4 linked regions of the Homo sapiens genome follow. The protein of the gene in region 1 interacts with the protein of each later gene in a biochemical or structural test. Each region holds a gene or a part of one and is shown on either strand. Other genes may lie near its edges.

What was found.
Region 2: the proteins of CYP3A4 (region 1) and POR form a complex in vitro, tested with the Homo sapiens proteins (one study listed by BioGRID).
Region 3: the proteins of CYP3A4 (region 1) and CYB5A form a complex in vitro, tested with the Homo sapiens proteins (one study listed by BioGRID).
Region 4: the proteins of CYP3A4 (region 1) and UGT2B7 interact in far-western blotting, tested with the Homo sapiens proteins (one study listed by BioGRID).

What each region holds. Positions count from the first base shown.
Region 1 is NC_000007.14:99,781,164-99,788,939, reverse strand, and holds the start of CYP3A4 (cytochrome P450 3A4), read left to right. Parts: upstream 1-4,755; 5' UTR 4,756-4,858; coding exon 4,859-4,929; intron 4,930-7,776.
Region 2 is NC_000007.14:75,918,145-75,925,170, forward strand, and holds part of POR (NADPH--cytochrome P450 reductase), read left to right. Parts: intron 1-3,957; exon of another isoform or gene 3,958-4,056; intron 4,057-7,026. UniProt on the Homo sapiens protein: This enzyme is required for electron transfer from NADP to cytochrome P450 in microsomes. It can also provide electron transfer to heme oxygenase and cytochrome B5.
Region 3 is NC_000018.10:74,281,949-74,288,974, forward strand, and holds part of CYB5A (cytochrome b5), read right to left. Parts: intron 1-7,026.
Region 4 is NC_000004.12:69,106,454-69,113,479, forward strand, and holds the end of UGT2B7 (UDP-glucuronosyltransferase 2B7 isoform 1 precursor), read left to right. Parts: intron 1-721; coding exon 722-809; intron 810-1,649; coding exon 1,650-1,869; intron 1,870-6,003; coding exon 6,004-6,283; 3' UTR 6,284-6,534; downstream 6,535-7,026. UniProt on the Homo sapiens protein: UDP-glucuronosyltransferase (UGT) that catalyzes phase II biotransformation reactions in which lipophilic substrates are conjugated with glucuronic acid to increase the metabolite's water solubility, thereby facilitating excretion into either the urine or bile.

The sequences.
Region 1 (7,776 bases):
TGCTAAAGCAATTAGTGATGTAAACTTTAATGGGTCAGTTAACCTTCCTGTGGCTTAGTTTGCTCATCTGTAAAATAGGGATCATAACAGTATCAATACCACATGATTGTTGGACAGATTGAATCAGTTAATGCAGGGGAAGTACTTAGCATGACACGTATTCACTATCATTTCCTGGAGTAAGAGCTGTGTGTGAGTGGGTGTGAGCATGTGTGAAACCTTTTCTCTGCAATCTCAGTTAAGAAACCAATCCAGAATTTAAAGTTCAGGGCCTAAATGGGTGGTTATCTTCTCCCAGTTCCATCCTATCCCACCTTTGCTCTTCCTCCCGCCCACAGGAGCTGTTGGTCCTTGATTGGGCTGGAAGACCTGGTGGACCCTAAGTGATCTATAAGAGGAGAATAGAGAACAGGGAATGTCTTCAAAAATCCTAGAGGGACACAGAGGCTGAGAGGCAGGCAGTCCTGCAGGGGTCTTCTGATTGGGACAAGGAGAACCTTGGTCTTCACAGGCCAATTCTGGTCAGTTTCCCCCATGGACAGATGAGGAAACAGGCCCAGGAATATCCAAGGTCTCACACTTCCCATCTGTCAAGTCTTGTTGATGCTGTTGTATTCATGTCTCTCAAAGGGAGATAGAGTTTAGGGAAGAAAGAAGGATCAACTGTGTCTGATACCACTGGGAGCTTAAGTAAAGGGTTCTTTTACTTCATAGCATTTATCCCAATTTGTAATTCAGTATTATTTGTGTGGCTGTTTGGTGTCTCTTTCTCCTATATGAGTGCTAGCTTCATAAGGGCAAGGATTTTGATTCTTTAATATTTAGTGCTTGCCACATGCCCTGAACACAGCAGGCATACAGGCTAACCAACATACAGTGGCATGAAAGTCATGAAAGTGAGACACCTACCTCCTCCAGTGCCAAGAGAGCATAACCATGCACCTGTCACTCTCCTCAACACCACCCCCAAGCATGAGGCCCAAAAGCATTAGCTAATCCCCTCCTCCAGCCACTAAAACTTAAAGGCCAGGTGTGGTGGCTCCCATCTGAAATCCCAGAACTTCAGGAGACAGCAGCAGGAGGATCACTTGAGGCCAGGAGTTTGAGATCAGCCTGGGCAACATAGCTAGGTCCCATCTGTACTAAAAATTAGCTGGGCGTTGTTGCATGCCTGTAGTCCCAGCTACTAAGGAGGCTGAGGTGGGAGGATCACTTGAGCCCAGGAGGTGGAAACAACAGTAAGCTATAATCACAGCACTGAACTCTAGCCTGGGCAACAGAGTGACACCCTGCCTCAAAACAATTTTAAAAATAAATAAGAGCAAAACTTAGATACCACGTGGTCACCCCAACATGCAAAATCAAGTTTTCCCCTACTGAGAAGAATGGGGACTTGACAGCTGAGTTACAGAGAGATAATCTTCTTCTTCTTTTTTTTTTTTGGTTTACATCCTCAAGATCATGACTTGTGAAATTTGAATCGAATACACATGTAATTCCAGAGCAATGTTGCCTCCGCATACCATCAGCAATTCACTTGGCTACTGGAAGTCAGGATAAGCTTCCCAGAAGAGAGGTACCACTTGGGCTACCAGTATAAAAGGATGAAAATATCAGAGTGATGGTGTTCTTTACAACGTTGAGTCCCTGGACAGCCTGTCCACTGATGCTGATATCTGAGCCTAATGCTTCTCTGAATGTTGAGATTGAACTTTGATCCAATGAAACTAGAACGAGAAAGAAGATAAGTCTTTCATTGTTGATAAGGACATTATGTTTCTCATACTTGTATGATTATTTTTCCTTAGCTGTACTATAATTATCTGCTTATTTGTCTCTGCTCTATGTGCTTAGGGTACAAAGTTGACCAAGACCAACTTTGGTTGGAAGCATAGTACTAAGAGCACAGTACTGAGAGCACAGCTTTAAAAAACATGATGAAGGCTTTAATACAGGAAATGAGCAGGGGAGAGGCATGTGGTGGTTGGATGTATCTTCCTTGACACAGTCAGTGCAGCTCTCAGTAGTCAAGTCCCTACATGTTAGAAGATGTTACCTTCTGTGGAATTAAGTGGCAGAACTTGCCTTCAATTATTTTCCTTTGCAGAACAACACCAACTGCATTAGTTAGGACACAGTGCTGGCTGCATTTAAGTCCCAAGCGATGATTAGTCTCTCACTGTTGGTATAGATTCAAACCAATCAGACCACCTCCTAAAGTTTGTAGGGCAGGTAAATCCTCATCTTAGAATAAAAATCATCTTACCAAGTATGTGTTTTAGAGGCAAGAAGAAAACATATTTGTTTCTGTAAGAGTTTTGTTTAAAAAAAATATAAGAAAGGCTCTCGGTTTAGGTGAGGTAATGAAGTTGTTGATAGTTATCAGATGACACTGGAATCTTTACTTCTCTGAATGTGTTCTGTGCATCTCTCAGTGTGGGAACATAGAGAGGGAGATCCTCCAGCAATGCCACTGATATGGTCAGAAACTGCATCTTTCTTTCTCCCTGCTGAGATGAGATGGAGTCCTTTGTTCTAGAAGACCCATGGTGGTGCCGCTGGGAGTAACCCTTGAGACAGGAACACAAATCCCAACCAATTTGTGGTTGCAGCCTTGAGTCTCACTATTTCCCATAGTGATGCGTAGCAGGGAATGGCAGGTGCACCAGAGCAGGAGAGGACCTAATATCTCCCTTCCTGTTAGCTTTTTATAAAGTTTTATTGTGATCAGTAGCAGTTGGGAAGCTACTTGCAGTCACTGAGCCTCAGTTTCTACATCTGTAAACTGGGGATAGTAGCATGGCCCCTACTTAATGTGCTCAGCAAAGCCACTGAAAGGAGACAGAAATGTATCTAAATTCCCTGGACTTTTATCCTACCTCTCTTGGGGATTGTCACCACCTTCCCATGTTTGTCCTTTTTGGTTTGATGCTTGCTGTCACTTCTTTCCTTAGGTGCCTCTCTGTACGGCTCTTTTATCCCAGGGATTCCAGAGTTACAGCACATGCATACCACCATCCAAGCATGTTTATTTGTCTCCTGCTTCACTAGGCTGTCCCCAAGGAACATGTGGCTCCCGGCACACACCTGGCACAACACTGCACATGACATTCACCCACTTGGCCTTGAATCTGACAAGGAATCTGGCATGATGTTCACCCACTCAGGCCAGGTGCCGAGCAGCCCTGGAGGCTTAGGGGCCAGAGGGATGGGAAAAGGTGTCTTTCTGGGGTGAGTATCAGTTTCTGCAGGAGGGCTGAATGTGAGAAAGAATAAAGAGAGAAGGAAGCGAACAAGCACAGCTTAAACATCGCCTATTTCTATTGAGTTTTAAGAACGCTGTGATTTTGTTTGTCATGCAATCCATTCATCAGGCCAGGCAGACACAGAACTTGGGTGTGAGTGACGATAATGAGCTGATATAATTTTCACACCCTCATCACTGAGATCTCTCCCATCAGGAATGGGTCAGGGAGCTCACAGGTGGCAGCAACTGCTATTACAGGCCTCATCTCTACCAGCTCCTGGGGCCTGCCCTCCTCCCATTAGAAAATCCTCCACTTGTCAAAAAGGAAGCCATTTGCTTTGAACTCCAATTCCACCCCCAAGAGGCTGGGACCATCTTATTGGAGTCCTTGATGCTGTGTGACCTGCAGTGACCACTGCCCCATCATTGCTGGCTGAGGTGGTTGGGGTCCATCTGGCTATCTGGGCAGCTGTTCTCTTCTCTCCTTTCTCTCCTGTTTCCAGACATGCAGTATTTCCAGAGAGAAGGGGCCACTCTTTGGCAAAGAACCTGTCTAACTTGCTATCTATGGCAGGACCTTTGAAGGGTTCACAGGAAGCAGCACAAATTGATACTATTCCACCAAGCCATCAGCTCCATCTCATCCATGCCCTGTCTCTCCTTTAGGGGTCCCCTTGCCAACAGAATCACAGAGGACCAGCCTGAAAGTGCAGAGACAGCAGCTGAGGCACAGCCAAGAGCTCTGGCTGTATTAATGACCTAAGAAGTCACCAGAAAGTCAGAAGGGATGACATGCAGAGGCCCAGCAATCTCAGCTAAGTCAACTCCACCAGCCTTTCTAGTTGCCCACTGTGTGTACAGCACCCTGGTAGGGACCAGAGCCATGACAGGGAATAAGACTAGACTATGCCCTTGAGGAGCTCACCTCTGTTCAGGGAAACAGGCGTGGAAACACAATGGTGGTAAAGAGGAAAGAGGACAATAGGATTGCATGAAGGGGATGGAAAGTGCCCAGGGGAGGAAATGGTTACATCTGTGTGAGGAGTTTGGTGAGGAAAGACTCTAAGAGAAGGCTCTGTCTGTCTGGGTTTGGAAGGATGTGTAGGAGTCTTCTAGGGGGCACAGGCACACTCCAGGCATAGGTAAAGATCTGTAGGTGTGGCTTGTTGGGATGAATTTCAAGTATTTTGGAATGAGGACAGCCATAGAGACAAGGGCAGGAGAGAGGCGATTTAATAGATTTTATGCCAATGGCTCCACTTGAGTTTCTGATAAGAACCCAGAACCCTTGGACTCCCCAGTAACATTGATTGAGTTGTTTATGATACCTCATAGAATATGAACTCAAAGGAGGTCAGTGAGTGGTGTGTGTGTGATTCTTTGCCAACTTCCAAGGTGGAGAAGCCTCTTCCAACTGCAGGCAGAGCACAGGTGGCCCTGCTACTGGCTGCAGCTCCAGCCCTGCCTCCTTCTCTAGCATATAAACAATCCAACAGCCTCACTGAATCACTGCTGTGCAGGGCAGGAAAGCTCCATGCACATAGCCCAGCAAAGAGCAACACAGAGCTGAAAGGAAGACTCAGAGGAGAGAGATAAGTAAGGAAAGTAGTGATGGCTCTCATCCCAGACTTGGCCATGGAAACCTGGCTTCTCCTGGCTGTCAGCCTGGTGCTCCTCTATCTGTGAGTAACTGTCCAGGCTCCTCTTCTCTGTTTCCTTGGACTTGGGGTGCTAATCAGGCCTCTCTTTCCCTTATCTGTTTTGAAGATCAAAAAAGATGTTCAGGCCGGGCGTGGTGGCTTACACCTGTAATCCCAGCACTTTGGGAGGCTAAGGCAAGTGGACTGCCTGAGGTCAGGAGTTCAAGACCAGCCTGGCTAACATGGTGAAACTCTGTCTCTACTAAAAATACAAAAATTAGCTGGGCATGGTGGTGCACGCCTGTATTCCCAGCTACTTGGGAGGCTGAGGCAGGAGAATTGCTTGAACCCGGCAGGCGGAGGTTGCAGTGAGCTGAGATCATGCCAGTGCACTTCAGCCTGGGTGACAGAGTGAGGCTGTCTCAAAAAAAAAAAAAAAAAAAAAAGATGTTCAAGGAGCAGTAGCTTAAGTGTTGGATGCTACAAACATATAGAGGTTATTGTAGATCTTATGCAGCTCTATAAAGGAATAAATAAGCATCTTCCCCATCCATCTTTAGTGGCAAGAAGGGTTTTGGGATAGCATTGATTGAGGATGATCTACTTGACAATAGTTTGGACCCAAGGAGGATAAGGAAGGAAAGTAGTGACGGATCTCATTCCAAACTTGGCTGTGGAAACCTGGCTTCTCCTTACTAAACTAGAATTTGGATTTTACATTTTCCCCTTTATGTTGCAGTAGAAGAGGATGAATCCTCTCACTGGTGGGATCCTGCCATCCTAGAGCAGGTAGAGAGAAGAGTCACTCCCCACTGTGGGTAGTGGAGGCTTCTCACATGTCACATTTCACTTCTACCTCAATTTCACTCTTACTAAGATTTGGGAATCATAATGACAGGAAAATAGAAAATATAAACCTCATTTTAATTCTTTCACAGAAAGGTTAGAAATTCAGTGAGTTGTGGCAACATATTTTCCATCTTCTGACCTTTTAACACTAATTGATATGGCTTAAATTCATTCTATTTTAAACCAGATTTTTTTGGAGATAGTCTATTTCCAACATGTTCCTTCTAGGTGACAAATGAGGGCTGTTAGTTCAGTATTTGTTACAATAAATGTGTGTAAAATAACCTCACCTTTCCAGAATCATGTCAGGAATATGAATCTAATGCACAAATGTATAACTCTATGACAAGATTGCATATATCTTTTAAAATATACCTTCCCAACGTTCATTTTAATACCCCTATTTCAAACAAACCTGCTTAGCAGGTTATGTTAAACGCTCAGGGCAGAGGAGTAAGCAAGACTGTGAGCCAGTGATGACAGCAAAAGCATCCAGGTAGGATCAAAATGGAGTAAGAAAATATTCCTCATCCCTCAGGGTAGAACTCCAAAGAGATATTCATGGGTCCTGGCCCCGTAGTGGAGGTCACTCAAAGGACAAACATGTTTGCATCTCATCTGCTTGAAGCCTGGACACAGAGGCACCATCTGTGTCACTCTGTGTGTGGTCTGCCATGTTGTGGGGTGGTCACTACAGACTCAGGCAGCTGGGCAGACAATACCTTAGCCTTAGATGATGCTGATGCAGCCCAGGAGTCAGAAACTGTAGTGCAGACAATGCCCTCCTTAGGCCAACACAATTAAGTGCAATAGATGACTGGCTTTTCTGTTAGCCTCTTCATTGGAACCAAAAGCAGCATTACTCTACCAAACAGAGGGGAGCTGGAAAGAAACTACACAGTTTGCCCAGCCTAGCCTCTGCCTTGACACGGAACCATGTGAGTCTAGACATTCACCTAGATCATTCCTTGGGGACCAATGCTGCTGACACATTAACTCAATAGTTTGTCCTGGCCTGAGAGGTCATGTAACTTGTAGAAAGTTTAGAAGCAGAGATTAGTGTCATTTATTTGCCATGGCTGTGACAACAAAGGAAGGAACAGGAGTGGGAAAACCCAAGGCCACCCTGGTTTTGGTAGATGGTGCACACGCTTCCACTAACTGTTCTGGGGCAAAGATCCAAATGCACTATTGGGCCTGGCTATGCTGCTTCTGCTGGGTCCCCCAAACATGAGCCTCCACGCCATTTCTCAGTTGTATTTTACCACATATTATCACAGTCACCGGATTTGTACAGAATATTTGGAACCTATACTGTCTTAAGGGCTACCCTTTAAAGAAGAGAAAACAAGGTTTTAATTCAACTGTCTGGAACATTTTATGTTTACTTATGTGGAATACTACATCTTTTGTTATAAACAGGAGGGAATGTGGACATTCGAAGGCCCCTACCTTTTAGCTAAAAGCCCATATGAAGCATATGGATCCATTTATACACACCATGCTTTTCAGCTACATTTTCCTAATTTGCCTCTCTGGGGCCAACCTTGTGGGACTAGCAGATTCATGGTTGAGTTGAAGGATGGTGACCTCTTCCATCAGCTTTTCTTCTTCCTCCAGTCTTCCAACCCTCAGTAACATCAGACTGGGAAGGTCTTCAGACATCCAGAAACCCCAGTTCGGGGAGTTCATACATGACCCATCAAAGATGAGTTGCAAGCAGGCCTGCCTTAGGGAGCACCAGCCTTAATGGGTTTTCCTACAGAGATAGTTGATGGGCAGATGCAATAAACTGACTGCTTTGTGATTGACCACCTTGAGAAAAATTAGCATGTCTGGCTATGTTAGTCTTTTCTTGCATTGTTATAAAGAAATACCAGAGTCTGGGTATTTATAAAGAAAAGGGATTTAATTGTCTCATGGTTCTGCAGGCTGTACAGAAAGCATAGTGACTTCTTCCTCTAGGGAGGTCTCAGGAAATTTACAATCATGGCAGAAGGTGAAGGAGAAGCAGACAGATCTTACATGGCTGGAGCAGAA
Region 2 (7,026 bases), about 24 Mb from region 1:
AAAAATACAAAAATTAGCCGGTGTGGTGGTGTGCACCTGTAATCCCAACTACTCAGGAGGCTGAGGCAGAAGAATCACTTGAACCTGGGAAGCGGAGGTTGCAGTGAGCCGAGATCGTGCTGCTGCACTCCAGCCTGGGTGACAGAGTGAGACTCTGTCTCAGAAAAAAAAACCCAAAAAACAACAACTTGTTTTGCTGTGCAGTTTTGTCATCTGGCATTGGGCAGAAATTTGGACCCGCCGGGCAGGTGGGAGAAGCATCTGAGTCAGAGGTCACTTACCTGCTTGCATAGGCCGCTGACCTATACCAAGCCTTAGTTTCTTCATCACTAAAGTCAGAGAAAGAACCCACTCCACCTGCCTCTGGGACAGCTCAGAACATGTTAACCCTTTCAGCAGTGGGTCCTTCTTCATCTTCTTGGCGCTGTTTGGATCCCTGTAGCGTGACACATAAAAAAGCACACATCCGGCCTTAGGATATGTGTAGGCTCTGGTTTGGGCACTTGAGAACTCTCACAGGGAGGGAAGCAAGCATACAATTCAACAAGAATGGCACGGTGTGTTGCATTCATTCTCAAGATGATGGGGTGAGGCTTTTATTAGTGCTGAGCCTGCTGTTTGTTTCCACAGCAGGGCTCCAGGGGAGAGGTGATGTTTGAGTTGGGTCTTGGAGGATTGCTAGGAGTTCTCTGAGCCCACCCAGGCACACCAGCTCTGGGGGGCATGTAGGGTGTAGATTGCATGAGGCTGAGGTCGCGTGGTGGCACTTGTCTGAAATGGTCCTAGGAACCATGGGAAGAGATGGGGAGGTGTTTTAAAAGGTCAGGGCTATGTGACTAGCTCAGATCAGTGTTGTGTGTTTTTTTTTTTTTTAGACAGAGTCTCACTCTGTCACCCAGGCTGGAGTGCAGTGGTGTGATCTTGGCTCACTGCAACCTCTGTCTCCTGGGTTCAAGCAATTCTTGTGCCTCAGCCTCCCGAGTAGCTAGGATTACAGGCACCGGCCACCATGTCTGGCTCAGGACAGTGTTTTCTTGTACTGAATATTCTCTTACTGCCTAATATCCTCTCTGGGTGAATGAACAACCATTTGGGAAATTTTTACTGTGTCTAAATTTGTAATCATACTGTTTTAGAGCTCTACATCTTAAAAGTTTTTCCTCCCCAAGCGAGATGTTTACATCAGTTGTGTTCTTGTTGGGATTAGTGTGCACACGCCTGTCTGCATCTGTGCGTGCGTGTGTGTGTGTGTGTGTGTGTGTGTATGCATATAAGAGGGAGAGAAGATGGAGGAATTCCATGGGGGCAGACCATGGTTCTTTGCAGATTGGTGGCTCCAGTTGGTTGGGTTCACTGGAGCCACGTTCATCAGTTTGTTTCTTTCTTTCCTTTTCTCTCTCTGTATGTTTATTTATTTATTTATTATTTGTAGAAGTGGGGTCTGGCTATGTTGCCCAGGCTAGTTTCAAACTCCTGGCCTCAAGTGAGCCTCCTATCTCAGCCTCCCAAAACGCTGGGATTACAGGCATGAGCCACCGCGCCCAGCCCAGTAACTGTTACTCCTGACGCTGGTCGGTGTGGCAACTCAGTTGATGCTTGGACGTGTTGTGAACAAAGCCCCGGGGAACCTGATCCTTCTGGTGGCTTGTGCAGCAAACTGTTGATGTGGGAAGCTTATTTATTTCACTTGTTAAAGAGGTGACTTGGATAGGGGGATATCTAAGAATTGTCCTTTCATTGGAGTGCTGGAGGGTGTGGCATTCGGATCTCCTTTGTGCAGCATCTGTACCTAGCTGAGAGAATTGTACACATAATTTCCCGAAATGCGTCAGTTTCAAGGCTAACTTAGAATATGTTGGTGGCCAGACTGTGGTGCTGTCAGCTGTGGACTGTTCTCCAAGAGTTGAATTTCTTTTTTTTTTTTTTTTTTTTTTTTTTTGAGACAGAGTCTGACTCTCTCGCCTAGGCTGGAGTGCAGTGGTGTGATCTTGGCTCACTGCAACCTCTGCCTTCCAGGTTCAAGCAATTCTTCTGCCTCAGCCTCCCAAGTAGCTGGGATTACAGGCGCGTGCCATCACGCCCGGCTAATTTTTTTTTGTATTTTTAGTAGAGATGAGGTTTCACTGTGTTGGCCAGGCTGGTTTCAAACTCCTGACCTCAAGTGATCCACCCGCCTCAGCCTCCCAAAGTGCTAGGATTACCAGGCGTGAGCCACCATGTCCAGCTTATAAGAATTGAATTCTTTAGGAGACATTTGGTAGGAGAATAGAAGGGGGAAAGTTGCCTTTTGTCTACTTGGATGTAGTAATGAGGAGGAAGATGGGGCATTGTGGGGCGTGTCCTCTAACTTGGAACAGATGTAATTTATTTCTAGGTGAAAGTTAAGAACAGTGCTTACTCATTCTATTTATCTGCCCTCCTTTTATCTTCGGCACTTTTTCCTACAGCCCTGTTTCTGAGCTCACGTCACATCACCTCTGCGGTGGTGATGCCGGTGTTCTTAGAGCACTGTGTCCTAGTGATACTTTGATCTTCGTGGGCATGCATCATCAGTGCATTGGGTAAGCCGGGCCTGTACAAAGGTTTGCAGGTTTGGTTAGGAACACGTGAACTACGGTCACCTTTCTGAACTTTCTGAACTCATATGTAGTGACCATAGGTCACCTGGGTTGAGTTTTCAACACTGCAAACAGGGATGGCAGTTCTTGAATACACAGGAGAGTGCATTAGCCAGTGGTGCCCGGCATCATTCAGAGTGCAGTTTGGCATCAGGAATGTTCCGTCAGGTATTTGTGGTCTTGTGGAGAAAAGCCACTGTTGGTTTTGGTGAAGGGCTTCAGACCCTTTGACTGCTCATGAAACCACACAGTCTTAACATGGACACGTTGGACGCGTTCCTTACGTAACGTGATTTGCAAACTCAGGAGTCATTCAGCGTCACAGCAGTGATCAAAAGCTCCCAGCCCATCTACCCGAAACCTCCACAACAAGAGCTCTATCTGTCAGTGGCCTCACCGACTTCCTGGGCCCTGAAGCTCCAAGGACAAAAGACTCCTGTCCCTTTTCCCTTCCTCTCCATTCTGGGTCTCCCACCACCACCAAGTCCTGTAAGTTTTTAGTCTTTTTTTTTTTTTTTTTTTGAGACAGATTCTTGCTCTGTTGTTCAGAGTGCAGTGACACAATCTCAGCTCACTGCAACCTCTGCCTCCCAGGTTCAAGTGATTCTCCTGCCTCAGCTTCCCGAGTAGCTGGGATTATAGGTGCGCGGCACCGCGCCCAGCTAATTTTTGTATTTTTAGTAGAGACAGGGTTTCACTGTGTTGGCCAGGCTGGTCTCGAACTCCTGACCTCAGGCGATCTGCCTGCCTCGGCCTCCCAAAGTGCTGGGATTACAGCAGGCGTGAGCCACCACGCCCGGCCCTTTAAATCTCTTTCCACTGCTGTGGTCTTACTGTAGCCCCTTGTCACTTCCTGCTGCGCTGACCCGTAATTGACCCATAATTCTCCCTCTCTTCCCCTCCCTACCACGTTCCAAGATCTGTCCATGGTACCATTGCTGGTTGATCTTGGAACCCTGCTTCGGTCACCCCTCCTTTCTCTTCGCCCAGACTGGAGTGCAGTGGCACGATTTGGCTCACTGCAACCTCCACCTGTCAGGTTCAAGTGATTCTCCTGCCTCAGCCTCCCGAGTAGCTGGCACTACAGGCACGTGCCTCCACACCTAGCTAATTTTTGTATTTCTAGTAGAGACAGGGTTTCACCATGTTGGCCAGGCCAGTCTCGAACTCCTGGCCTTAAGTGGTCCACCCAGCTCAGCCTCCCAAAGTGCTGGGATAATAGGCAGGAGCCACTGTGCCCGGTCACTGTCACTGTCTTATTGCATGTTTTCTTCTTCATCTGCTTTCATAAAGGATAAACAGTGACTTAATAAAAGGTGTCTAATTCTCCCCTCCCTAGTGGCAATACGGTTGGACTAGAAGGTGAATTCAGTTGAGAACAGGGAACCTATCATTTCTGCGAGTGTAAGCTGGGGCATAGAACAATGCCAGGCATAAGGTAGGCACTTGGATGAATGGATGAATGAATAAATATGGCTTCTGTCCCCCAAGTTTACTGCTGAGCTTTCTCCTGCATATTGACTGAGCTCAGATGTCAAAATTGGGTCTGATCTGTAGTTTTTTTTTTTTTTTTTTTTGAGACAGAGCCTGTCACTCTGTCGCCCAGGCTGGAGTGCAGTGGCGCAATCTTGGCTCACTGCAACCTCTGCCTCCTGGGTTCAAGCAATTCTCGTGCCTCAACCTCCTGAGTAGCTGGAATTATAGGTGTGTGCCATCATGCCTGGCTAATTTTTTGTAATTTTAGTACAGATGGGGTTTCACCATGTTGCCCAGCTGGTCTCGAATGCCTGACCTGAAGCAGTCTGCCCGCCTCGGCCTTCCGAAGTGCTGGGATTACAGGCGTGAGCCACTGCGCCTGGCCTGGTCTGTACTTCTGAAGATTATTCCAAAGTACAGTAGGAACTTTTGGTAGGACTTTAGTTTTCCATCCAGGTATAAAATTTTGTGTCAGTGGTGGGGTTGCGCATGTTCAGTAGCTGCAACACTAGAAAGATGGCAAAGCAGGAGCAAAGAAAAATCCCTTTGGCTCCAGAAAATCTCCTGAAAGCAGAAGGCTTATCAAGGCCTCAAAGCCACCCAGTCAAAGTAGGCACTTTTGGCAAAGGAGGAGCAGAGGGAAGGAAAAGAGCTCAGGTTTAAACGACTGGAATCATTCCTACATGATTCCTGGCGGCAGAAACATGACAAGGTGTGTCTCAGACGACTAGAAGTAAAACCTCACACCTTGGAATCGCCAGATAAACATTCCTTGGCCTTTGTTGTACGCGTCGAAAGGATTGATGGTGTGAGTTTACTGGTGCGGAGAGCCATTGCAAGACTTAAACCTAAAAATGCAGCGTATAGTATGTAACCTTATGTGACCTGGGGATTTCCAAATCTGAAGTCTGTCCAGAAACTCATTTTGAAACGTAGACAAGCCAAGGTCAAGAATAAGACCATCCCTCTGACAACACAGTGATTGAGGAGCACCTGGGAAAGCTTGGTGTCTTTTGCTTGGAAGACCTCATTCATGAAATTGCCTTCCCAAGGAAGCATTTCCAGGAGATCTCATGGTTCTTGTCCCCTTTCCACCTCTCAGTGGACTGTCATGCTACCAAAAATAGTGGACTTTCTGAAGGAGATTGGCACACCTCCATCTTCTTGGGGGTGTGTGCATCAATCAGCTCATCCGCCAGCTGAACTAGAGCCAGGTGCCAAACTACAGTAAATTTTTATCAATGAACTGGAAGCTTGTGTTATTTTTGGGGGCGGGGTGGAATTTTTATCAAGTATCTTCAGAGAAGATTATTTCCTGCTTTATCTTCAAAAACTGTAAAGGAAGGGTCAAAGGAAAGACAGTGGCTGGCCGGGCCCGGTGGCTCACGCCTATAATCCTAGCACTTTGGGAGGCTGAGGCGGGCAGATCACCTGAGGTCGGGAGTTCGAAACCAGCCTGACCAACATGGAGAAACCCCGTCTCTACTAAAAATACAAAAATTAGCTGAGCGTGGTGGCACACGCCTGTAATCCCAGCTACTGGGGAGGCTGAGGCAGGAGAATCGCTTGAACCCGGGAGGCGGAGGTTGTGGTGAGCCAAGATCAGACCTTTGTCCTCCAGCCTGGGCAACAAGAGCGAAACTCCATCTCAAAAAAAAAAAAAAAGAAAAGAAAAGACAGTAGCTTACGTTCATGGCGGCACCTCTCATCACAGTCCAGTTCCAAGGAAAAATTCCAGCGTTTTCTACGTTGGCTGCTGCCTTGTCTGAAATCACATTTTGTGGAGAAAGGAGTCTTGCTTTGTTGCATCTTCTATCCTAGGGTTTAATGTTGGTGAATGAGTAACTCTAGCATTTGTACAAGGCTCCCTAAGAGTCCTGCAGCAGTCGACCAAGCCCGGGGACATAATTGAATCCGGAGATTCCTGGGGCCTTGAAAAAGGCTTGAAATATACATAGGAAGAAAGGCACAAAAATAAATGCTCACTTGTCTCTGCAAAAAAAAAGAAAAGAAAAATTGTGTCTCAAGTTCCTTCTGTAGTTGATAATTTATTCAGTAATCATTTTATAATTGAAGAAGAATATTCTGACTCTAAATCTTTCTAGATCAGTTACCTGGATGCTGAAGACATGAATAAATTTGTTTATTTTAAAAATCCTAGGGCCTGGCACAGTGGCTCATGCTTATAATCTTAGCACTGTGGGAGGCCGAGGTGGACGGATCACTAGAGCCCAGGAATTCAAGACCATCCTGGGCCACATGGCAAAACACCATCTCTATTTAAAAATTAGTGTTTTTAAACATCAGTGTTTAAAAATTAGCTGGGTGTGGTGGTGTGTACCTGTCATCCCAACTACTTGGGAGGCTGAGGTGGGAGGATCACCTGAGCCCAGGGAGGTTGAGGCTGCAGTGAGCCATGATCAGACCACTGCACACCAACCTGGGTGATAGAGTGAGACCCCCATCTCAAAATATACAGTAATAAATGAAAAATAGAAAATTCCCCAAATAAATAAATAATAGAAAATTCTAATGAAAATAAAAGGAGTTGAGTGTAACCGTTGAGTGTCTGCGCTGGGTGTTTATGTCTCATGTAACCAACGTAGCACTGTGAGCATGGTCATCCCGGAGACGGACTGTGATAAATCGTGTGCCCAGGATCCCAGAGTGCATAGGTGGCATATCTAGGTTTTGAACCAAGGTCTGTTGGTCTTTTATAGCTCAACTGGGTTGTGAGTTTGTTGAATTTCACTTTCCATGCTTTCCCCAACCAAACCAAAAACCAGAGGGGGAACTGAAAGCTGAGAGCCTAGTAATTGAGAAAAGGACTCTGGGAGGTGATGGTGTCAAAAAGCAGTCCAGGGAAGCTCTTGTGGTTGAGCACACAGCTCTGCCCAGAGCTTCCTAGATGCCAAGGCAAAGAAGGATGGGG
Region 3 (7,026 bases), on another chromosome or scaffold:
ATGTCTGTGAGTGGGAAGGGGAACAGGATCTCAGGCACAGGTGGAGGCCCGGGCTCTGGGCAGGAAGAGACTGGAAAATGCAGACCAAAGTGCTCCCCTCACCTTTAATTCTCCTCTTCCCTTCTACTGACTGCCTGGGAGCCTCCCTCGATGCCATTCTTGTGTTCCATGCTCTGAGACTATGTCACAATCCAGACTTTCACAATACAGTCCCACTAGTTTCTAACTGTGCAATCCTCAGGGACAAAATCCCAGGCCAAGGCCTACAGAGTAAGAAGAGATCACACTAGCATGTGCCGTGTGTGGAAAAAGGGGGTAAAATAAGATAGTCACAGAGCAGGGACTTGTGTCTGTTTCTCCACCAGGCTCTCCTCTTCCATCCTGGGAAGTTACTTTCTGGCACCGGACAAGGGCCACAGAGTAAGAAGGGATCACACTAGTATGCACTGTGTATGGAAAAAGGGGGAAAAAAATAAGATAGTCACAGAGCAGGGGCTCGTATCTGTTCCTCCACCAGGCTCTCCTCTTCCATCCCCGGAAGAGTGACTTCCTGGCACCGGACATGGGCCAGGTGCACAGCAGGCGGGCAGGCAGGAGCCCTCATCGCGTGGAAAAAGCAGCATATCACAGCCGGGAGGGTCTAACTGCTAGCAGAGGCACAAAACGGGATGGGACACCATGCTGAGACCTGAACAGGGCCAAGCCTGACACAGGGGAAACCAGGGCAAAGGTTTCAAGGTAAAAACAAGTTTGGCTTGTTTGAGAAACAAAGAGAAAGGGTCAATGTGATCAGGTGTGGGCATTAGCAGGGAGGACACAGTGTTATTTGCTGAGGTGGGGGAGGTAGGTAAGGACCAGATCATTCAGAGCTTTCCAAACCAGGGCAAAGAGATACAATTTTATTCTAAATGCAACAGGAAGCCATTGAAAGGAACTGAACAGAAAAAGGACAATCTGTTTCCAAAAGATCAAGTTTTTTTTGTGTGCTTCTCCTAGAAATCACACTTTTCAATGCCATAAATAGCATTTATTACTCAAGCTGAAAACTCATAAAACCACCACCCATTTGATGGAACCAATGAAATCCTGAGAACTGACTGCCCAGTGGCCACCATGAGAGGTGGCAAAGATACAAGAGAGGCCACACCAGGGCATCTGCTCTCAGCTTGGAGGAGAAAGATATTCTAACCACCCTGCAACCAACCTCGTGGCACATGCAGAGGGGATATGGACCCGGAAGGGGAGGGCGAGAGATGAGCGGGACCCACTGAGGGATTTATCAGAGCAGGAACCTCCTCGGATTTCCATTTAAACAATCCTTCCCAGGGCAGTCATTTAAGATGCCTTTCACCAAACAACACATGCCTCCTCACACATACCCACTACACGTGCAAACAATCTCTTTCCGAACCAAAACCACACCGATGATTCAGCCCCTGCCAGGTGAGAGCAGCATCTGGGTCACAAACAAACTGAGGCCGTGAAGACTCCACCCCGACTCCCTCTATTTAAAAATTCCTCTACAAGAAACAGGAATGGCTGTTTCCTTCACCTCCTAGAAGGCAACATAGTAAACTGACAACAGATGGAAAGAAAGGCATATTTTTGTCCATTAACTTTCCAAGGGTTTTGGCTTTGTTCAGATATTTGCATCACAAATTCCCTTTGCTTTCTCCCTGGTTCCTCCAGAGAACTCTCCAGTGATCAAGGTCTCCAGCAAATGACAGCAACTCTGTATCAGTGGGATGCACTTTTGCTTTTAAAGCTACGCTAGGTTCTCATCAATACTCCTTGGATCTCAAGCCTCAGCAACAGACTCAGCACTGAAGACACTGGGTCGCAGCGCCCGCAGCCTGGACTGAAGCCCTGGCTTTGCTCCTTATCGTCTGTGGGACTTGCTGAGCAAGCTGCAAAATCTCCCTAAGACATACCGTCTTACCTTTAAAAGGGAGGACACAATCACCACTGACCCCATAGGGTTGTTTTGAAGATTAAAAGCACAGGCCGGGCGCAGTGGCTCACACCTGTAATCTTAGCACTTTGGGAGGCCGAGGCGAGTGGATCACTTGAGGTCAGGGGTTTGAGACCAACCTGACCAACATGGTGAAACCTCATCTCTAATGAAAATACAAAATTAGTCAGCCTGGTGGTGCATGCCTGTAATCCCAGCTACTTGGGAGGCTGAGGCAAGAGAATCGCTTGAACTTGGGAGGTGGAAGGTTGCAGTGAGCCGAGATTGCACCATTGCACTCCAGCCTGGGCAACAACAGTGAAACTCCATCTCCAAAAAAAAAAAAAAAAAAAAGAGAGATTAAAAGCACAAACGCAAAGAAGGTTTTATGTGCAAAAAGCACTTGGCACACTCCCTAGCACATACTGAATGTCCATAAACATTCAGCCAACGTCCACTGCTATCACTTTTCTTATTAGCTCACTAGGGATTGTTGGGGAGGGGAGGATTAAAGAATAGCATTTACTTGGGGACGATTAATGAATGGCATTTACTTAATTAACACTTTCTGAGGAAGACGAGGGAAAGAAGTCTGGATATATTTTGTGACCTGGCTAATTCTGGACACAGCTGCACAAAGCTTAATGAATAGGTCTGCCAAGAACAAACAATAGCAGGCAGTGAAAGAAACAAGCTGCAAACTGACACTCCCCAGGCCCTCAACTACAGAAGAGTTCAAGTGATTCCATTTCAGACAGGCTCCCGTGCCCACCAGCCAGGCAGAGAGGACCCTTAACTGAGCCTAGAGGCTGTTAATCACCCCATCCCTTCCCTTAGGTCCACATCCCTTATCCCTCGCCCCCTCCAGAGCCTCCCCAGCGTCAGTGCTGGTTCAGATGCCATCATTTTGGCATGGGCCTGCTAGAGACAGAATTCTACGGATGTAAGAAAGTAACTTCTTGCCATCATCCACAGAGCCGTCAGCTCTAAGCCAACAGGCAGCACAGGCCAGATTCTATTCAACAGCAAGAACGGAGCTGTCCCCACCCAATCTTCAGCTCACCCTCCCGGTCCCCATGTTGGAACTCAGTAAAAGGCACAGATACCCAGTTACTATATACACTCAAGACTATGTTCCCAAGAAAACTAGGTCCAAGGGTAATAGGAAAGGAAGCACACTTGATTAAAATGTTCTGTTTTTCAGAATTAAGGGCAATGAATTTCAACACCCATACTCTGTTCCTCTATCCCCAAGCCTTGGAAAGCACTGGTCTATGCAATGTAGGCAGCCATGTTCAAAGGAAAATAACAAAGAGCAAGTCCCTACAACAAAACCTGCTAGAAAGGACACTCTTGAGACTCCAGAAATGGCTCTGAGCCTGCTACTCAGTTTCCCATGTAGTCAGCTGCTGCCTCCGGTCACTTTTCTGATGCTTTGAGCCTTCAGACAATGAAATTCTTTCATAGAATAGACAAGGTATTACTTGCCACAGCTTCACTTTTAAGAGAATTTATAAGCTAAAGGGGATAAAAAATTATTCCATACATTTCCCTTTTTAACAGAAGTACACAGCCAAATTCAGGAAGGGAGGTGAATGAGGCGCAACCAAGTTCCTCCACTCCTAAGAACCGAGAAATGCACACACTGGTGTGCCACCCCAGGGTGCTCTGGTAACATCCATCAAAATTTAGAGTGGCTCATGCCTGTAATCCCAGCACTCTGGGAGGCCAAAGGGGGCAGATCACTTGAGCCTAGGAGTTCGAGACCAGCCTGGGCAACAAGAGACTACATTTCTACAAAAAATACAAAAATTAGCTGGGCATGGTGGCTCATGCCTGTGGTCCCAGCTATTCCAGAGGGAGGACTGGTTGAGCCCAGGAGGTCAAGGCTGCAGTGAGCTGAGATCACACCACGGCCTGGGCAACACAGCAAGACCCCATCTCAAAAAAAAAAAAAAAAAAAAAAGTAGAAGTGTACATCCTTTCACCCAAGAATCCCACTTACAAAGATCTACCATAAGGAGGTAATTGCAGGTGGGAACCTAAAAACATGGAAGGAAAGAGGATTCCGTATATTAGGATCCCTCTATACAATAAGGAGGCAGCCTGGGAACAGGAGTTACTGAAATTCAGGACTGGTCCCTCAACACCTAGTTTAGTGGGGAAAAAGGGAGATTACAGAGCAGCATGCAGAGCACATTTCCATGGATGTAAAGCACATCCACGAGCAAGGTGTTGTAGTAGTGAGTGTGCAAACTGCTCAAGCTGGCCACCTTCGGGGAGCAGAGCTCCAGGCAGCTTTGAGTTTCTTCTTTGCAGTTTTCCACACTGTCCACTTCCTTAACATGATCATGTATTATTTTCCCCTTACACAATAAAGTTGTATGTTTAAAAGCTCCTGAAATGGGATGATTTCCAATCTTGCAAAGCACACATTCCTGAACAATTATATTTCATGTGAATATTTGTATTTTGAGTCATTTTGTTTACTAGTTAACACTATAATTCCTGAGATATGTTCCTACTAAATGGACCTTCCACATAAAAACAATTTATTTTAAAATTTTAATTCAATCAAAATATAGTCACTTAAATGCCTTCTCTACATATTTTTTCCAGTGTTCTCACATATATCATTTCTCCCAATGCAGATGGCAGTGACAGAATAGTTCCCACTTCAGAACAAGGAAAGTGACTGAAAGAAATACCTGACTTGCCCAAGGTCACCTCCATGATATGTCTAAGACCAGGTCTAGTTTTCCTAACCCCAGCCCAGTGCTTTCCCATGAATGCCCAGCGGGACAGGGTTGTTCAGACTCCACTCAACTACAAAGGCACTTATCAGCCATCTTCACCAGGAGGACTTTTCAGAATACCAGACATTCACATTCAGTAAAATTGTGCATGTTATTTATTCCTTGATTGACCAAAGCCGGCTTGCATGTGTTTTCCCTTCCTTATTTACAATTTTCATCAACCTTTAAGATAATCAAAAAGCAAAAGTTAATTTGCTGTTTCTTTACTGTTTTCTTTACTGTTTCAAAACAAAGTTGCCTCTTGGAACCTCTTTTCAAAAGTAGCAACAGGTTACCAAAAAATATAGAGATATATATAGAAATATACAAAAGCCTCACGGGTTCACATTCCCCAGGTGGCCTTCTAAGATGTGGTTTTACTACCACTTTACCCAAGATGCCTAAGCCACCAACACTACCAACAATAACTTTATATTTCCCTTCTACAGACTCTGTAATTTCTAAGTTTTATTTACCTAACGGTATATATTAAATAATAATAATGTTCCCATTTTACATGCATCAAAGGCATATTTGCCAACTGCAGCCTTTAGTAGCATGAGATTCAGAATACTATCAAATTTTCTTGCAAAAAGCAAAGGCATTTAGTATTTTAGCCCTAAATATGGTAGCTTTAACAAGGGTAAAGATACGTGTTCTATGTTTTTCAAAATTAAGGGCAATGAATTTCAGCACCCATACTCTCTTCCTCGATTCCCAAGCCTTAGAACCACTGGTCTACGCAACATAGGCAGCCATGTTCAATGGAAAATAACAAAGAGCAAGTCCCTACAATAAAACCTGCTAGAAAGGACACTTTTAAGACTCCAAAAATCAAAGTGAGTCAGGAGCCAATAGCTTCTATGAGGCAGAATGCTGTAAAGAACATTTAAGGCTCAGGTCCAAGACTATCAGAATCCCAGGAACACTAGAAAATGTTCTACAGAAGCAAGTTTCCATTTTTATGATGTAAAGGGAGAGGAGACAACTTCACAAAAAGACATTCTGCTTTATAAAATTTTCCAGGACAGTATCTATTTCACGAATCAAACACCCACTGACTTGAACCAAAAGCAACAGCTAATGGAAGTGTTGTTAATTACAGGATACCTTTCTCTCTCCCCTCCACAGCTCTTTTAAAAACTGAATAGATGCTGCTGCCCAAATCACAGAAAGGGAAATGCAAACATTTCTCCCCCTGGTCCTAAATGCCTAAGTTTTCATTTCAAATAACTGTCCCTTAAAGTTCTATGATCAAGCAAAGACTCAATTTCACAAATATAAACTCAAAAACTAGAACTCAGGATTGAAAAAAAAATCTAGTTCAAAATATGTAGGCAATAAAGCTCAAAATCTTTTAAGTATCAGACAGTAACTAAGCACCTGCTGCTATGTCGACTGCCATTAATAATAAGCCAGTCTTCCCTCTTAGGTTTCTACCCCTCCGCCTAAACAACAAAAACAGCTTTAGTGGCCATTATTTCAGGAGGTCGGAGCACATGCTGCACCTGTGAGCTTCAACCTGTGTTCTTGGCTTGTACCTGCCAGCAGAGCAGGATCCCTCCACCATCTCACCACACACCTTCTCAACATGAACACGGACATGCACATAAATCTAGGACATTCTGAAAGAAGGGGAAATACTCAGCCATGAGAAATCCTGTCCATACGGATGGGGGATCTCACAGTAAACAAAGGTCTAGCCCATAATGACTGAAAGTTCATTTGAGAGTTAGAAGGAGAAGATAAATCTTTCCTATTTAGGTAAATTAGGTGAGATAAAATATTTGTTAGTTAACACACAAAGGCTTCATGAAATTCTGGAGCCTTTCAACAATAGAAGACAGGAAAGAGGATCGGGCAAGCGGGGAAGAGAGACAGAGACATTCTGCACTCATTTCTGTTTTAAAAGTACGTTTCAGACAAACAGACTAGCCTCATAACAAACTACCTGGCAGGGCAGTGTGCTGAAGAGCTCTGAGCGAGTGAGCTTATTGGAGATATAACCCCAGGAGCACAGGAAGTCACCTGCAAGGAATCCTGGCTAGAGTCTCAGATAGAACCCAGAGAGAGGCTCCCAGAGGCTTTGCCGGGGGCTGGGAAGCCAATGACCAGGACATGCAATAAGCAAGAGATGGTCACAGAAAGTCAAAGCAAATAATAAAGACGGCAAATGGAAAAACACGTCCATAAGAGGTCGAATCGGGAGGTGCCCAGAGGTCAGACACAATCCAGTGAAAGGCTAAGTGGCCTTGCTTGTTCCCAGAACCACATGTTGGC
Region 4 (7,026 bases), on another chromosome or scaffold:
ATATTCTGTAGTGTATATGTACCATATTTTCTCTATTCAGCCCATAATCAATGGGCATTTAGGTTGATTCCATGTCGTTGCTATTGTGAAAAGTACTGCAATTAATACACCTGTGCATGGGTCTTTATAAAAGAACCATTTATAGTCCGTTGGTTATATACCCAGTAATGGGATTGCTGGGTTTCATGGTATTTTTACCTCTAGGTTTTTGAGGAATCGCCAGTCTTCCACAATGGTTGAACAAACTTACATTCCCACCAACAGATTATAAGCAAGCCTTTTCTATACTACCTCACCAGTATCATGATATTTTTTGAGTTTTTAATAATAGCCATTCTGACTGGTGTGAGATGCTATCTCATTATGGTTTTGATTTGCATTTCTCTAATGATGTTAAGCTTTTTTCTTTTTTTTTTTCATATGATGGTTGGCCACACGTAGGTTTTCTTTTAAAAGGTGTAACAATTTTTTAAATGCTTGAAATTTTCATTGATAATCTGATTTTTTCTAAGGTACTATTTTGGAAAATCATGATTTCCTTATATACCTAACTAATTATAAAAGTTGAGAAAATTAATGTGAGTATTCTATTTACATTAGTCTTTGAGTAGTTCTTATTTACTAACATCCCTTGATCTCATTCCTACTCTTTATACAGTTCTCACATTCTATAACTTTTGAATTCCACTCATGGAATAAAATATTTTCTTTATTGTAACAGGTTCTGTGGAGATTTGATGGGAATAAACCAGATACCTTAGGTCTCAATACTCGGCTCTACAAGTGGATACCCCAGAATGACCTTCTAGGTAAGACTCTGGTGAACAAATACTGAATATATTAGTAACAGCACATTAGAGTGTTAATAGTTCATCATGAAACAAGCTTATTGAATATTTGTTAAGGAAAAACAAAATGTAACTTCTTTATATTGATTTTCCAGTCTTAAGGGAGAAAGAATACATTATAATTTTTGGCATTTTATGATATACACCCACATTCTTTATAGTCTGAATCGGGGGAATCTTTATTTCAGGTGTTATTATATCTCACAAAATTTTTCAATAACTTCCTGGGCTGTCTCTCTGTCTCCTATTTCTACAACTTTACACCTGTTTTTTTCCTCTCCCGCAGGGTTATTTGAAATGCCACTAAAAATAATAGCTCTTCTATCACCAGTGACTCTGTATTTTCTGAAGAATTAAACTGCTAATCTTAATCATACAGTGATGATACATTTCACGATGAAGTGTGACCTGTCCTTCCTCAATCCTAGCACCACCACCAAACCACTGCCTGCTGCCTTGCCCACCCCATATATCACACTCTGTGACTGCACTTAAAATAAGAGTTCACTTCATGCCTATCTCTTTGCTGTCTTCTTTTTTGCACATTTTTGAAATCTAGAATGCAATTTTTCATTAGCCCAACTGGAAATCTTGTATTGTTTTGCAGTCTGAAGTCACACACACCGTATAGCCTTCAGTTACATACCCAGTACAAGTACGTGTTTTTTCCTCCGAAGTCTGAAACACAATTTTAATTTAGTTCAGTGTTTTAGCTGGAAAACACTGTCACTTTCAGAGCCTTTCATTGTGCATCTCATTTTATTCCTATGAGTAATTTTGCTAAAATTCATCCAATCCTAGGTCATCCAAAGACCAGAGCTTTTATAACTCATGGTGGAGCCAATGGCATCTACGAGGCAATCTACCATGGGATCCCTATGGTGGGGATTCCATTGTTTGCCGATCAACCTGATAACATTGCTCACATGAAGGCCAGGGGAGCAGCTGTTAGAGTGGACTTCAACACAATGTCGAGTACAGACTTGCTGAATGCATTGAAGAGAGTAATTAATGATCCTTCGTGAGTAGAACAATATTTTTCACTAGGTGGTATTTACAGATAGCTTCTCTTGTCAATAGTGAGTGTGAGTTTCATCCTTTTTATAAGAGACTAATTTTGAAAGAATTTAAATGATTTAACCAATCTGAAATCTGCTTTTATTTTTATAAGTTATTTAAAAATTGAATTTGAAACACATACATCTAAAGAATAGCCAGTTAGTGAAACAATTTTCTACACAAAAATAATTTTAAAAGGATATAGATAATACAAAAAATACATTTCTTAAAAATTTGACATAATTAATCCATAGAAGAAAGGAAGAATAAACCTGAAATAATATAATAAAATATTTTAATTAGATATCTAAAACACCTCAGAGTATAACCATTTTCTTGCTGAAAAATTAACTTTTATTATTATCATTATTGTAACAGACTTGAAAATGAGATTTAATTTTGATAGCATAAAACCCCCCTGTTTATGTTATAAAATCCAAATATATTTAGTATGTTTACAGAGCCATGAAGCCATCACTATTACATAATTTTAGAACATTTTTATCAACACAAAAGAAACTGCAATGACACAGAAGTCACTTCCTATGACCGCTTAGCCCTGGTCTAACTAATTTGTTTCCTTTCTCTATAGATTATTCTCTTTAGATATTTCATATGAATGGAATCATACAGTTTAGGGTGTTGTGAAATGACATTTCACCTAGGCTAATTTTTTGTTGTTTTTTTTTTCTGGTTTTAGTTTCATTCATGTTGTTGTGTGTTTTAATACTTCATTTCTTTTTATAGCAGTTTAATATTTTTTAGTAAAGATATGTCATATTTTAGTTGTTCACTTATCAGTTCATTGGCCTTTTGATTGTTTTCAATTGTGGCTATTAGGAAGATTGCTACACATGTTTTTGCATAAACATGTTTTCCTTTCTTTAGGGTTGATACTATAAGTGGAATTGCTGCTTCATGTGGGAACTGTATGTTTATGAAGAACTGCTAAACTGTCTTCCAAAGTACTTGTTTCATTCATGACTACCACCAGCAGTACAACATGGTTCCAATTCCTCCATACTTTTGCCAAACCTGTTATTCCCTGACTTTTTGTTACAGCCTTCTTAGTGGGTGTAAAATGATCTCTCATCCTGGTCTTGGATTGCATTTTCATTACGGCTAAAGGTGTTGAGAATCTTCATACGTGCCTACTGATCATTCATATATCTTCTTTGAAAACAGTCTATCCAATCCTTGGAACATTTTTAAACTTTGCTATTTGTCTTATTATTAAGTTTAAGAACTATTTATATATTATGGGTCATGTCAGATATATAACTTGTAAATATTTTGTCCCACTCTGGGTGCACTAAATTTTACTTTTTGATGTTGGTCTTTGAAGCACAAAAAATATAATTTTAAGTTAAATTTTTAATAATTGATTTTTTCAAACCCAAAGATATCAATGTGCAAAATTCCTTGTGGAGTCCAGCTACCATCAATTCAGCATTTATAGCTACTATCAATAATGTTTTTTTATATAAGCAGGGTATCATCTAAAGGAATACTTGAAAAATACTTTATCACAAAAAAAGAAGGATAATGAATGATAAAAATACCTTTAAAGAAGATAGGAAATAATTGAAAAAGAACACAAACCAGCTTGGACAAATAGAAAAAAAATATATAAAGCAAATTGGTAGATTTAAATATGATTATACAAATACTTTCACTCAATCTAAACAGACTTTAGAAAAGAGCAAGTAATTAGTAAAGACATAAAACATTTGAAGAACACAATTAACAAATGGAATCTTATAATGTAAAATGATACAAACGCACATACATACACACACAATAAACATATATGTATCATATATATCAACTTGAAGACACATTTTCCTAGAGCATGTCGAATAGTTATCTGAAGTGATATGTGGTGGGCAATAAATCAAGATTTAGTACATATAATAAGGTTCAATATCATAAAGACTATATGATCCAGCCATAGTGGAAGTAAGGGAGGTTATAAAAACTATAACTAACATATCTTTAAATTTTAGAGATCAAGAGGTGAATCACAACTATGTCTCCACTTTTATCTCAACAATTCTACTCCCAGTTATATACCCAACAGATATGTATAAATAAATCTAATACCATATAGAAGAATATTTATGACAGAATTATCAATATTGTCCAAAAATTGTTAGCAACCCAAATATCTATTAATCATAAAATGAAGACATAATCTGTGCTTTATCAATCAACAGAATACTACACAGCAATGGAATTACCCAACAACTGCTACATTAAAAAAAGACACTAATGAGTACGTATTATATAATTCAATTACATAAACAAGCAAACTAATGTATGCTATTCGAAGTCAGGCTAATCCTTAGTTGGTGGACAAAAGTGGTGACTAAATGGTTCAGAAAAAGAGAGTTATTCTAGGCAGGTTGTGATATCCTATACCACAATCTGAACAGTAGGTAAATCGATATCTTCACCTCAAGATAATGTTCAAGATGATCTTACATTTTTGAACTATTCACTTAGTGTATGAATATTTATCTTTTGTATTTAATATTTAAATGTTTATTTTATGAGATATATAATGCATTTTAAAATTCTAGGACTCAAATAGCAAAATAAGCACAGAAAATAGAGAAAATCCTAGTGGTTCCATCATAATGTGGCCAGTAAAAGCCTCTCTTAGAGGTAACATTAGAAGGAAGCCACAAGAAGGGAGAGAAGCATTCCTTGGGTTGTAGCAAGAGAGAGTACTCCAAGAGCGGGAGAGAGGGGAAAAAAATGTGTAAGGTACTAAGATGAGAACACCTTTGGGAGCTTAAAGTAAAATAGAAGGCCAATCTAGAAGACAGTGTGCAGGGGAAAAGTGTTAGGAAAAGAGTTTGCCCGTGTCTAAAAATGTAGGGTTCTGTAGACCAAATAACAGAGTTGGATTTTATTCTAAAAATAATGAGAAGCCAGGCAAAAGTCTTAATCAGGGGAGTGCTTTAAACTGACTTTAATTGAAAAAATCATTCTGGCTACAGGGTGGGAAAGAGTAGGAGACAAAAGAGTAATGTAGAAGCAAAGTGACTAGCTATGAGGCACGTCACTCACCATGACACAATTACTTTTTCGGAACTTAGAGATGATAATTCTCATATTGCATTTTCACGATCTTTCTCATAGCACTTAAAAGGGCTCATGATGTTGAGCATGTTCTCCGTATGTCTGTTTGAGAACTAAGAGTGTAATTAGATTGTTCATAATACAAAGGATAAATGCATAAGGGATGAATATCCTATTTTCCATGATGTGATTATTTCATATTGTATCAAAACATCTCATATACCCCATAAATATATACACTTAATATGTACCCTCAAAAACTTAAACAATTAAAAACAAATTAAAAATGCCTTATATTTTCTCTGCTTCAAAAAAAATTAACTTTCTCAGCTAACATTCAATTTCTACTTTAAAAATATTTCTCAATGAGAGAAGTCCAATTTAAAAGCCAAACTTTCTATGATGACTCAAATTAAAATACACAAATTCGATGTCAATTCTTTGACATTTATTTTGAATTATTTGGCCCTTTAAAAGCCTTTCGTAAACTTGATATGGACAGGCAAATTAACTTACTTTCAGTATTAGGGAGGAGACCATGCTTCATATCGTCTTATGCCCAATTTCTGCCTCCAAAGAAAGAAGTAAAAACTAAAAGGCAGAAATGAAATCCACAAGCAGACAGCCCAGTGCCACACCCTGTGCCTGATAGTTAAAGATCGACCCCTGACCTAACCAGTTATGTTATCTATAGATTCCAGACATTGTATGGAAAAGCATTGTAAAAATCCCTGTCCTGTTCTGTTCCATTCTGATTACTGGTGCATGCAGCCCCCAGTTATGTACCCACTGCTTGCTCAATCGATCATGACCCTCTCACGCAGACCCCCTTAGAGTTGTGAGCCCTTAAAAGGGACAGGAATTGCTCACTCAGGGAGTTCAGCTCTTGAGAGAGGAGTCTTGCCGATGCTCCCAGCCGAATAAAACCCTTCCTTCTTTAACTCGGTGTCTGAGGGGTTTTGTCTGTAACTCTTCCTGCTACATTACTGTCTTTATTTTTATCTTTCAGATATAAAGAGAATGTTATGAAATTATCAAGAATTCAACATGATCAACCAGTGAAGCCCCTGGATCGAGCAGTCTTCTGGATTGAATTTGTCATGCGCCACAAAGGAGCTAAACACCTTCGGGTTGCAGCCCACGACCTCACCTGGTTCCAGTACCACTCTTTGGATGTGATTGGGTTCCTGCTGGTCTGTGTGGCAACTGTGATATTTATCGTCACAAAATGTTGTCTGTTTTGTTTCTGGAAGTTTGCTAGAAAAGCAAAGAAGGGAAAAAATGATTAGTTATATCTGAGATTTGAAGCTGGAAAACCTGATAGGTGAGACTACTTCAGTTTATTCCAGCAAGAAAGATTGTGATGCAAGATTTCTTTCTTCCTGAGACAAAAAAAAAAAAAGAAAAAAAAATCTTTTCAAAATTTACTTTGTCAAATAAAAATTTGTTTTTCAGAGATTTACCACCCAGTTCATGGTTAGAAATATTTTGTGGCAATGAAGAAAACACTACGGAAAATAAAAAATAAGATAAAGCCTTATGAGCTCGTATTGAAATTTGTTGAACTTATATTGAAATTTGTTGTTCTAATTCACAGTATACTCACAAAAAAATTTACTCAGCTTAACTATATTTCACACATTGTACATAAACACAAGATCATTAAGAAGTCCACTGACAGTATCAGTACTGTTTTGCACATACTCAGAATAATTTGGCTTCATTTTGAACAGGATTGTATTGTTTTAACTGCTGCTAAAGAAACTATTACATAGTTAAATTGTACAGAAAGTCTCTCTTCCTTTTGATATTTTAAGATGAGTAGTATTGCTTGGCTTTTATAATGCATGCAGCTTTATTCTCATATTTTTCCTAAAATTTATGGCCAAGTGTTTACTGTTTTAGAGCTTAAGTCATTTCTCAGTGGAAATTATGGGGAATTAGAAATACAGCAACTCTTACCTTCTTCCTACTGTAAAATTGAACTATTTTGTAACATCTTTGGTTTCATGAGCCAATTCTATTTTTTCTA